Homo sapiens: one gene and its partners. The gene in region 2 interacts genetically with the main gene of each other region. Each region holds a gene or a part of one and is shown on either strand. Other genes may lie near its edges. The genes, in order: CTNNB1, CREBBP and MYB.

The links.
Region 1: of CREBBP (region 2) and CTNNB1, changing one enhances a phenotype caused by changing the other (phenotypic enhancement), as found in Homo sapiens cells (one study listed by BioGRID).
Region 3: of CREBBP (region 2) and MYB, changing one enhances a phenotype caused by changing the other (phenotypic enhancement), as found in Homo sapiens cells (one study listed by BioGRID).

The regions. Positions count from the first base shown.
Region 1 is NC_000003.12:41,233,852-41,237,504, reverse strand, and holds part of CTNNB1 (catenin beta-1), read right to left. Parts: coding exon 3,638-3,653; intron 3,367-3,637; coding exon 3,208-3,366; intron 1,782-3,207; coding exon 1,662-1,781; intron 1,157-1,661; coding exon 1,006-1,156; intron 918-1,005; coding exon 796-917; intron 1-795. UniProt on the Homo sapiens protein: Key downstream component of the canonical Wnt signaling pathway.
Region 2 is NC_000016.10:3,769,214-3,772,866, reverse strand, and holds part of CREBBP (CREB-binding protein), read left to right. Parts: intron 1-1,880; coding exon 1,881-2,297; intron 2,298-3,513; coding exon 3,514-3,653. UniProt on the Homo sapiens protein: Acetylates histones, giving a specific tag for transcriptional activation. Mediates acetylation of histone H3 at 'Lys-18' and 'Lys-27' (H3K18ac and H3K27ac, respectively).
Region 3 is NC_000006.12:135,201,794-135,205,446, reverse strand, and holds part of MYB (transcriptional activator Myb), read right to left. Parts: intron 2,231-3,653; coding exon 2,123-2,230; intron 1-2,122. UniProt on the Homo sapiens protein: Transcriptional activator; DNA-binding protein that specifically recognize the sequence 5'-YAAC[GT]G-3'. Plays an important role in the control of proliferation and differentiation of hematopoietic progenitor cells.

The DNA of each region.
Region 1 (3,653 bases), on a different chromosome or scaffold from region 2:
AAAAACCCAAGTAACACACTACTCACTGGTAATTTGCTTTTTTTTTTTTTTTTTTTTTGTGTTGGAGTCTGGCTCTGTCACTGAGTGCAGTCTGTTAACTCCTGGGTTCAAGCAATCCTCCTGCCCCCGTCTCCCCAGTAGCTAGGACTATAGGCATCCATCTCCATGCCCAGCTAAAGATGGGGTTTCACTATGTTGCCCAGGCTGATCTTAAACTCCGGTCTCAAGAGCTGCATCGTTGTAAACCTAACAATCTCTCTTTCCATTCACTCAACAAACATAATCCACTGTATGTCTGTGTACCATCAATGATCTCTATAGAATGGATAAAATATCAGGATGTTCTAGTTTTATTAGAAACAATGTTTCAAGGAACCACCTGTACTGAGGACAAATGCTGAAGAAAAATTCATAGCAGAAATTCAAATAGAAAAGTTTTATTAAAGTTTAGTAAAAAATACTGATAAACTGTCCTCTTAACAGTGTTTAACACTGCCTCTTTCCTTACATCCTTTTGAAAAATCTTCTTTAATCTGGTAACATTTTTCATCTTTCTCCCTTATGAATTATAATTTTAAATAACACAACTTATTTGTAATGATTCTGAACAGACTCTTTAAAGCTTGTATTATAGTTCTTCCTCAGAGCAGTTGCTAGACAGCATAAAGAAGAAATACTCAAGCCAGGGAAACATCAATGCAAATGAATGTGTACTAAGTGTTTTGAGAGGAAAGAACAAGCTGCCATACCTGCTCTAGGAAACTACCAGATAAATAACTGCTCACATTTCCCTACCTCATTCCAAGCCATTGGCTCTGTTCTGAAGAGAGAGCTGGTCAGCTCAACTGAAAGCCGTTTCTTGTAATCTTGTGGCTTGTCCTCAGACATTCGGAACAAAACAGCAGCTGCATATGTCGCTAAGAGACAAGGAGAAAAAGGCCCTTGAGGAAAAACTGAGACTTCAATGTACACATCTGCTAAAGGCTTTGGTTCCTTTTTACTTACCCACACCTTCATTCCTAGAGTGAAGTAACTCTGTCAGAGGAGCTGTGGCTCCCTCAGCTTCAATAGCTTCTGCAGCTTCCTTGTCCTGAGCAAGTTCACAGAGGACCCCTGCAGCTACTCTTTGGATGTTTTCAATGGGAGAATAAAGCAGCTAAGGAGAAAACACAAACAAAACCTAATTAAATCTAAAGCTAAAACATGGCAAGCCCCCCACTGTGGTGCAAACATTCCCAATTCAGAGTGCAAGAGGCATTCACACTGTAGTAAATAATATTCTCTGAATTTTATGTCTTGGGGTGTTTAATGCTCTGGAGCACTGGATTTCCATAATATTTTTTAGCTATAAACCCTTTCTTCAGAGGCAGCTCTAACTGATCTAAGATTTGGAAAACCCAGAATTGGTTGGGGGTCTATGCCCTGCCTCTGGCAGCCCAGGTCAGCTCTCCCCTCTAGGCACCCATAAAAGTGAAATGTGAAATCTCCTCCCTCTTCTCAAGTCTCAATGTTTCTCTTACTGACCAAAAAATGTAGGGAATTTTCATAAAATTAAATGTTGGTAACCCTATTATGGTCCCTAATTTTCTGAAATGTTATTAGTCATTACAATCTGGAAATTTTATGGACATAAAACCTAGAACACTTCACTTAAAACATACCTGCACAAACAATGGAATGGTATTTAGTCCTCTGATAACAATTCGGTTGTGAACATCCCGAGCTAGGATGTGAAGGGCTCCGGTACAACCTTCAACTATTTCTTCCATGCGGACCCCCTCCTGCCAAAAGAAACATGGTTAACAAACAGGGCATTCTCCTCTGTAAAGTTTGAGGAACAATTATTAGACTGTAATTATTTACATTATATACCCGAAGTTCCCCGTAACTTGCAATTAGTTCAGGAAGGAAGAAGGATTCCATTAACTTGAATGTCACTGAAAAGAGGCCTCCTGGCAGCACTAATTCAAAGCAGCACCCCTCCCCCATACACAGTGCAACAGAGCTTCCATACAGCGCTGAATCCCAAAGACAACTTTCCTACAGTAAGGGCACCAATCATTCTGGGTAAAAGGTATATAAAAAGAGAAGATGAGAAAGTAATGCTCAGACTATGTCAACGTTTTTCTTTTACATGCCCCCTCTATTTTTGTATATCTTCCATGTATTTGGTGAAAACTTTGCCAAGTTTTAGCACCAACTGCTAAAACTAACCGAGTTGCCAGCAGAAAAATTCACTCCTCACTCTTCCAAGACTATTCAGCTGACAGCCTCATGTATAGAAGGAAGATAGCTTTTGCAATATGTAAGTACCATCTGTTTCTCCTGTTTCTGGATTTGAGTTTTAAAAGGGGTTATTATTCTGCTACATTTAGCAGCTTTTATAAATAACTTGATTCTTACAAGGACACAAAAACTCTCTTCTTCCTAGAAAAGAGATTTAAAATAAAAGGTGCCCTCAACGTTCTATTAAGTCACCTCATGGAGATGGGCCAATACCAACAGTAATAAATGAAGAAAGCCAAAGCCCCAATATGAGTACATACACAAAGCAACCAGCAAAATGAGATTCCTAACATCTGTTCTGGTAGGCTCCATCTTTGTTTTCTAAACTAACCTAATAAGGTCTTAAAGTCTGAGAAATCAGAAATGTCATTAGACTATACTTTTAATGAAGCTACTTTTAAGACACAAACTTTGTATCAAAGCTTCAGGTTGAGATTTTTGTGGTTAAGAGTACAGAAATGCTACTACTTATTTCTGAATATTCTTAGGTCCATGAAAAAAGTTTAACTCACAGAAAAGATAATAAAACGGACTGCTAAATATTTATAGTCAAAATGCATGATGAGGCAAGGGTAAGAGGCTCTGAAATTACACAGATTTGATCTCAAATTATGACTCTACCTCTTCCTAAGGAAGTGGGCCTTTGTGTAAATTAAATGAGAACACTTTATGAAACACCTAACCCAACCTTTGTAAGACTGACCATGTGAAGGACGTGTCCAAGGAAATATCACTGGGGCCACACTATGCCTTATTTTCTCTGCAGCCATAGAAATGTGTAATTATTTATTTATTTACTTTGTCATTAGCTCTTCAGGAAGACGGATGGGGGGAACCAATGACCAAAGAAAGAAGTTCAGGATCCTTTGGATTTATGCATTCCTTTTAGATAGCCAGGTATCACTGTAAGAATTTACCTACCACAAATTGCTGCTGTGTCCCACCCATGGACGTACGGCGCTGGGTATCCTGATGTGCACGAACAAGCAACTGAACTAGTCGTGGAATGGCACCCTGCTCACGCAAAGGTGCATGATTTGCGGGACAAAGGGCAAGATTTCGAATCAATCCAACAGTAGCCTGAAAAACAGAAGGAAGAACTGGCATACAACTCAACAAAATCATTTTCTTACCCTAAAATTCCCACCACACTAAATCTATTGGTATCAACTAAAAGTAGTTCTGACTACACAAACATTTCAGAATCTTACCCCTATCGCAGCCATACTTCCTACTTACTAAGGAATACAATTCCTACTTATTGATCACTATGCTTAGACAGCCATCCAACAGCTAGAGATGCTTCATTTTCAATTCTGCAACAAAGGTAAATTCTACTTTGACAATTTACCTTTATCAGAGGCCAG
Region 2 (3,653 bases):
ATCTCCTGACCTCAGGTGATCCACCCACCTCGGCCTCCCAAAGTGCTGGGATTACAGGAGTAAGCTACCGTACCCAGCCTTGTTTTGAGTTTTTAATGTGAAATAATGCTGCATAAGTCATTATTATATATTAGATTTCCTCACTAAATGATTATTCTTAACTTTCCATAACATTTCATTTCTCTAGAACAAGGATTAGCAAACTTCGTGTAAAGGGCCAGATACTAAATATTTTCAGCTTTGCAGGCCATTCAATCTTGGTTTTCATCACTTCTGTTCTTGTAGTGCAGAAGCTGCTGTGGTACATAAATGAGGTGGCTGTGTGCCAATAAAGCTTTATTTACAGAAACAAGCAGCTCAGTGTGTTTGCCCTGGGAGATTGCCAACCCCTGCTCTAGAACAGTGATTCAGAATCATTTTTAAAATGTTCACAAATAATTCTGAAGTGTATCCCCAGTATAGAACCACTGCACTGAAACAGTTCTCTTTCAGTAACTAACGTGTGTGTGTGTGTGTGTGTGTGTGTGTGTGTGTGTGTTTGTGTTTCAGAGAGAATTTTTTTTTTAAATTTTTAATTGTTAAGGGTACTTATGGATGTATATATTTATGGTCAATAACTTTTATTCTTATTTTTATTTATTTATTTTATAGTCCCCAGGGAAGAAGCAACTTAAAAAAAAAATACCTTTTTCTAAGCTAAGCTTAGAAAATGTTAAAGAACATTGGGTACATGTTATAGAACATGAAGCTTATAGGCTGGGTCAATGTACAGTAGCTCCCCCAATCTGTCATTTCACTTTCTGAGGTTTCAGTTACCTGGGGTCAACTGTGGTCCAAAAATATTAAATGGGAAATTCTGGGAATAAACAATTCATAAATTTTAAATTAATTAGCTAGGCATGGTATTGCACGCCTGTAATCCCAGCTACTGAGGAGGCTGAGGCAGGAGAATCACTGGAACCCGGGAGATGGAGGTTGCAGTGAGCCAAGATCATGCCATTGCACTCCAGACTGGGTGACAGAGCGAGACTCTGTCTTTTTTTTTTTAAAAAAAAAAAAAAAAAGTTTTAAATTGAGTGCCATTCCAAGTTGCATGATGAATTCTGTCACCATCCCACTCTGTGCCCCCAGGGATGTGAATCATTTATTTGTCCAGCATTTCCACACTGTAGACACTACCCACCTCTTAGTCACTGAGTGTCCACCTTGGTTGTCAGATCCAAAAATCTTGGTAAATATTGGGTTCAGTACTATCCGCAGTTTCAGGCGTTCCAAGACTGGGGGTCTTGGAATGTATCCGAGTGGATATGAGGGGACTGCTGTAGATGTGTGTGTTTAAGCCATAAGTTTCAATGGTTGTTTTAATTATATAAATCAGACTATAAGAAACGTGTGTAGTTTTACCGTTATTGAGGAGTGCCCATTACAAGTGTATAGCTCGATGAATTTTCACAAGCAGAACACTCCCAAGAAAATGTGATTAAATTCCCATACATTTGGCTGGGCGCGGTGGCTCACGCCTGTAATCCCAGCACTTTGGAAGGCCGAGGCGGGAGGATCACTTGAGGTCAGGAGTTTGAGACCAGCCTGGACAACATGGCAAAACCCGATCTCTACTAAAAACAGAAAAATTAGCTGGGCGTGGTGACGGGCACCTGTAATCCCTGCTACTCGAGAAGCTGAGACAGGAGAATTGCTTGAACCCAGGAGGCGGAGGCTGCAGTGAGCCGAGATCGCACCATTGCATTGCAGCCTGGGCGACAAGAGTGAAACTGTCTCAAAAAAAAAAATTTTTTTTTCATACATTTAATTTTTCAAATGTTTCATCACATTTTCAAACGGGGGAAATAATTTTACCATACTCTGTCCATTTCTGGTAGGGACAGGTGCCTGGTGCTGCTCTTCCTAACCCTCTCAACATGCTGGGGCCTCAGGCCAGCCAGCTACCTTGCCCTCCAGTGACACAGTCACCACTGCACCCAACACCGCCTCCTGCTTCCACGGCTGCTGGCATGCCATCTCTCCAGCACACGACACCACCTGGGATGACTCCTCCCCAGCCAGCAGCTCCCACTCAGCCATCAACTCCTGTGTCGTCTTCCGGGCAGACTCCCACCCCGACTCCTGGCTCAGTGCCCAGTGCTACCCAAACCCAGAGCACCCCTACAGTCCAGGCAGCAGCCCAGGCCCAGGTGACCCCGCAGCCTCAAACCCCAGTTCAGCCCCCGTCTGTGGCTACCCCTCAGTCATCGCAGCAACAGCCGACGCCTGTGCACGCCCAGCCTCCTGGCACACCGGTAAGCCTCTCTGTCTCTGCTGTTTTTGGGCCAAGACTCTTAGAAGATAATTTTCCCATAAAAATTGTGTGTCAGGCCAGGCGCGGTGGTTCACACCTATAATTTCAGCACCTTGGGAGGCCAAGGTGGGAGAATCACTTGAGCCCATGAGTTCAAGACCATCCTGGGCAACATAGTGAGACCTCGTCTCCAGCAAAAAAAAATTTTTTTTAACCAGACAAGCATGGTGGTGTGTGCCTGTAGTCCTGTAGTCCCAGCCACTCAGAAGGCTTAGGTGGGAAGATCACTTGAGCCTAGGAGGTACAGGTTACAGTGAGCCAAGATCACGCCACTGTACTCCAGCCTGGGCAACAGAGCGAGACATTGTCATCTTTTGTTTGTTTACTTAAAACTCCATTGAGGCTGGGCGCGGTGGTTCACGCCTGTAATCCCACTACTTTGGGAGGCTGAGGCAGGCGGATCACCGGAGCTCAGGAGTTCGAGACCAGCCTGGCCAAAGTTGTGAAACCTTGTCTCTACAAAAATATAAAAATTAGCCGGGCATGATGGCTGGTGCCTGTATTCCCAGCTACTCGGGAGGCTGAGGCGGGAGAATCGCTTGAGCCTGGGAGGCAGAAATTGTATCGAGCCGAGATTGCGCCATTGTACTCCAGCCTAGGTGACAGAGTGAGACTCCGTCTCAAAAAAAAAAAAATTCCATTGAGTAAGAATTTGCAAATTAGGAATTCTTTTAGTGGTTCCTTCGTGTAATGTTCATTTACTCCACCAGCACCCGTGTTCCTACCGTTCACACAGGCTGGGTAACACTGTCTTTGGGTAGGCACTTGATTTCCCTCCCTTCAGATGTGCTTAGGCATTCATAATTCAGCCTTTTACCATACACATTAACCACCATATTGAAGGGAATTAATTTCAAAATATGAGATTTCATGATTTAGCTAGAAAACTTCGAGAAAATAAATTTATGTCAAAGTTTGAAAAGCTCTGCTGTTTCCTCTGCCTTTGTGGCAAGACCTGAGTTGTACCTCTGGCTGCTGTTACCTCCCTCTAGAACTCATTCCTACTTTAACCCCTGTTCTTCGGTTTCACAGAAGGGCACCTGCTGGATCAGTATTGAGAAATGTTAATGGGAAATTGTAGGTTGCATGAGCAGCATAGTTGAAGATCATTTATGTTACCTTGCTTACTGAAGTCAGTGCTTTCGGTTTTTTCACAGCTTTCCCAGGCAGCAGCCAGCATTGATAACAGAGTCCCTACCCCCTCCTCGGTGGCCAGCGCAGAAACCAATTCCCAGCAGCCAGGACCTGACGTACCTGTGCTGGAAATGAAGACGGAGACCCAAGCAGAGGACACTGA
Region 3 (3,653 bases), on a different chromosome or scaffold from region 2:
AATTGTCCCCAAGTATATTGATGTGTTGGCTTTTTGAAATTTAGAACAGACTTTTTCTGTACTACTACAAATACAAGTTGGCCCCAGACTAGGTTAGAAAATATATGCAAAACTTAATCTAACTTAATTAAAACACGAATAGCAGTAGTTGAATTCTGTTCTCTAGAAACCAAGAGCCAAGTAACTTAGGTGGGAATAATTAAAAAAAAAAAAAAAAGCAAAAGCTTTTCTTCTGGACCTAAGAACAGCTTTCAGGAAAATTTTGAAATGGCTGCCCTTTGCCTTGAAATCTTTGTAACTCCCTTTCTGGGTTCCTCTTATGTCTGGGTGGAGTTCATTCTCTTCCTCATCTCCCAATTATTTGTGATATTCTTTTTTTTGAGATGGAGTCTCATTCTGTCACCCAGGCTGGAGTGCAGTGTCATGATCTCGGCTCACTGCAGCCTCTGCCTCCTGGGTTCAAGCGATCCTCCTGTCTCAGCCTCCCGAGTAGCTGGGATTAGTAGAGATGGGGTTTCACCGTGTTGGCCAGGCTGGTCTCAAACTCCTGACCTCAAGTTATCCACCCGCCTTGGCCTCCCAAAGTGCTGGGATTACAGGCATGAGCCACTGCGTCTGGCCTCTTTGTGGTATTCTGAGTCTTCTCCACACGGGGCCAACTCCAGCCTCACTGACGCAGGAACTTGTCCAGATTCCCCATAAATACTGACTCCCTGTCTCACATTCCAGTCCACAGCCATTTTACCAAAACAATTGCTGTCAGAGAGAGGCCAGGAAGGAAGCAATCTGATTTAATTAAACAAAATGTGCTTGCAATCCTTATTTTACAATAATACTACGCACTGGCTAGGTGCGGTAGCTCACACCTGTAATCCCAGCACTGTAGGAGGCCGAGGTGGGCAGATCACTTGAAACCAGGAATTCGAGACCTGCCTGGCCAACATGGCAAAACCTTGTCTCTATCCAAAAATACAAAAAAACGGCTGGGTTGCCGGTGGCTCACACCTGTAATTCCAGCTAATTGGGAGGCTGAGGCATAAGAATCACTTGAATCTGGGAGGCGGAGGTTGCAGTGAGCCGAGATCACCCCACTACACTCCAGCCTGGGCCACCGGGTAAGACCCTGTTTCAAAAAACAAAGCAACATCAACAAAAAACCCTGAAAAACTAAGCATCACAAATACTTACCGGGCAAGTTTTCAGATTCTCACAATTTGGAAGGAGAAACTATCACAAGAATGGGAAATCCCTTTAAGGTAATGGGCAGACTCAAAGGCTGCTGTCCTATGATCGTGCCATTTAACTTACAGCAAGAAATATGACCTTCAGCTTCTGAATCCAGGCTCTTCACTTCCTCTAGGGTTATGAAGTTTCCCTCTGCATGGCACAGGGGGATGGAGGAGAGGGCTCTGCAGGTGGCTGGGTATTGGGCTATTTAATGTCAGAAACTGCTTTAAATAATTTAGGGAAGCAAAATTTGCATTCTTATTTACATTTGGCTCAGGATTAATTTGGAATTGGTTATATTTCATCAACACACACCCACTTTAGGGTTACAAGGGAAATCTCTTTTGATATTAAAACCTGACAGCAGATGGTCAACTTCAGATCGGCCTCACAACATTGACAGTTGACTTTCTTATTCTGACAGTCAAATACATTGCAATTATTTTCTGTCTGACTAATTTCAGACTTCATTTAAAATTGGAACAGTCTCTGAGCTTTGGTTGCCTAGGGATACAGCATAAAAAATAAAAAATTTGGAACATAAAGTAAACTATATTGATATATTTTTATAAAACATTTGAGGGCAGAAGAAGATAGTGACACACGTGTAATACATCTTAGTCTCAGTCACAGTAAGAAATGTTTCATTTCATCATGCTTTGGGGAATCTGCACTGATAAAAATTTCTAGCATGTCTCATATGAGTAGCAAAAAGGAATTATTGGATTTTTCTAGACATCAAGAATTGTATAAAAGCATTACTCCCCTATGTCTAAAATGTTGAAAACGAAAAACAGACCACCAGCACTACCATCACCACCACCACCACCACCACCAAAGATGACAGTTTTTCAGTGAATGAATTTTAAAATACCAATGTTGGAATAGTAATTACCTGCAAGGGGCTCGCCAGGGACCTGTTTTTAGGTACTGTAAATGCTTTGAGAACATTGTCTTCATCTTCTGATGCTGGTGCCATTAAAACGGAGCTTGTAAGAATATTCTAAAGGGAAGAGAATAATTTGAAATTTAAATGAGGTTGGATAATATGAGAGCCACATTTTTCTAACACTGTGGAGAGTAGATTACTATGAGATGATACACATTAGCATAAAAAAATGCAGTCATCTGCCAGAAATTCTCCCCACTATGAGCTAAAAGGAGAAATCAACTATGTCTGAACCTTAATCCCATTGTGGCAAACATCACCACAACACAAAGCTCCTTTGGGATCCCAGAGTTCTAGGCATGTGTTAGGCACTCAAAAAACATCTGCTAAATGAATTAATAAATACATGCCTTTCAAAATAGAAGATTTACTAAGTTCTGGGGAGAGAACACTTTATTTCATATATTGGTACAGAACTATCAATATTTTAGAGCTATAAATTATTGGCAAAAAATGGTGAAAAGTAGGGAATTTAGAACAAGACCTTCTGAGTTCCAACCCAGCACCATCCCTTATTAGGTATACAATCTTGAGCAAATGACTAAGCCTCTTTGTGCCTCTGTTTTCCAGTTGACATAATAGAAATGATAATAATACCCACCTGGCCGGGCGCGGTGGCTCACGCCTGTAATCCTAGCACTTTGGGAGGCCGAGGCGGGTAGATCACCTGAGGTCAGGAGTTCAAGACCAGCCTGACCAACATGGAGAAACCCCGTCTCTACTAAAAATTCAAAATTAGCTGGGCGTGGTGGCGGGTGCCTGTAATCCCAGCTTCTCGGGAGACTGAGGCAGGAGAATCGCTTGAACCCGGGAGGCAGAGGTTGCAGTGAGCCGAAATCGTGCCATTGCACTCCAGTCTGGGCAACAAGAGCGAAACTCCGTCTCAAAAAAAATAAAAATTAATAAAAATAATACCAACCTTACAGGATAATTGTGAGAATTAACTGAATCAATTCATCGAAAGCCCCTAGAGCAGTACTTACCACTTAGTACCTACTAAATAAATCTTAGCAGCTGTTATTAGCTCTGATTTTCCTTAAGACATAAGGACAACCCTTCACAAATTATAAACTTTAAAAATGGTGGTAGTAACCCAAAGCAATTGGGTACAATACTGGGCATCTACTATAGACAACGTGGTTGATACCATATGAGATGCTACACAAACCAAACAAGAGACAACTTAACAAGAAGACAATATTATTTAGAAGACAAATAAAGGAAAATATATAAATGAACATAGTTTTTATATCCATGTAGATTTTTTTAAATGGCCAAGGCACTCAAATAATGAGAAAACAAATAATGAAAAAGTCTGCAATGTTTCTAATACATGAAAAAATCTCAACTTTATACTCTACATTAATAATCATTTTTTAAAAATCATGTGCAGGAGAACATTTAGAAATAAGATGTGTTAAAGAGGGAGTGCTGAAACCGCAGCAGCCCTATGCCACACACAGGATTTCATGAGGCA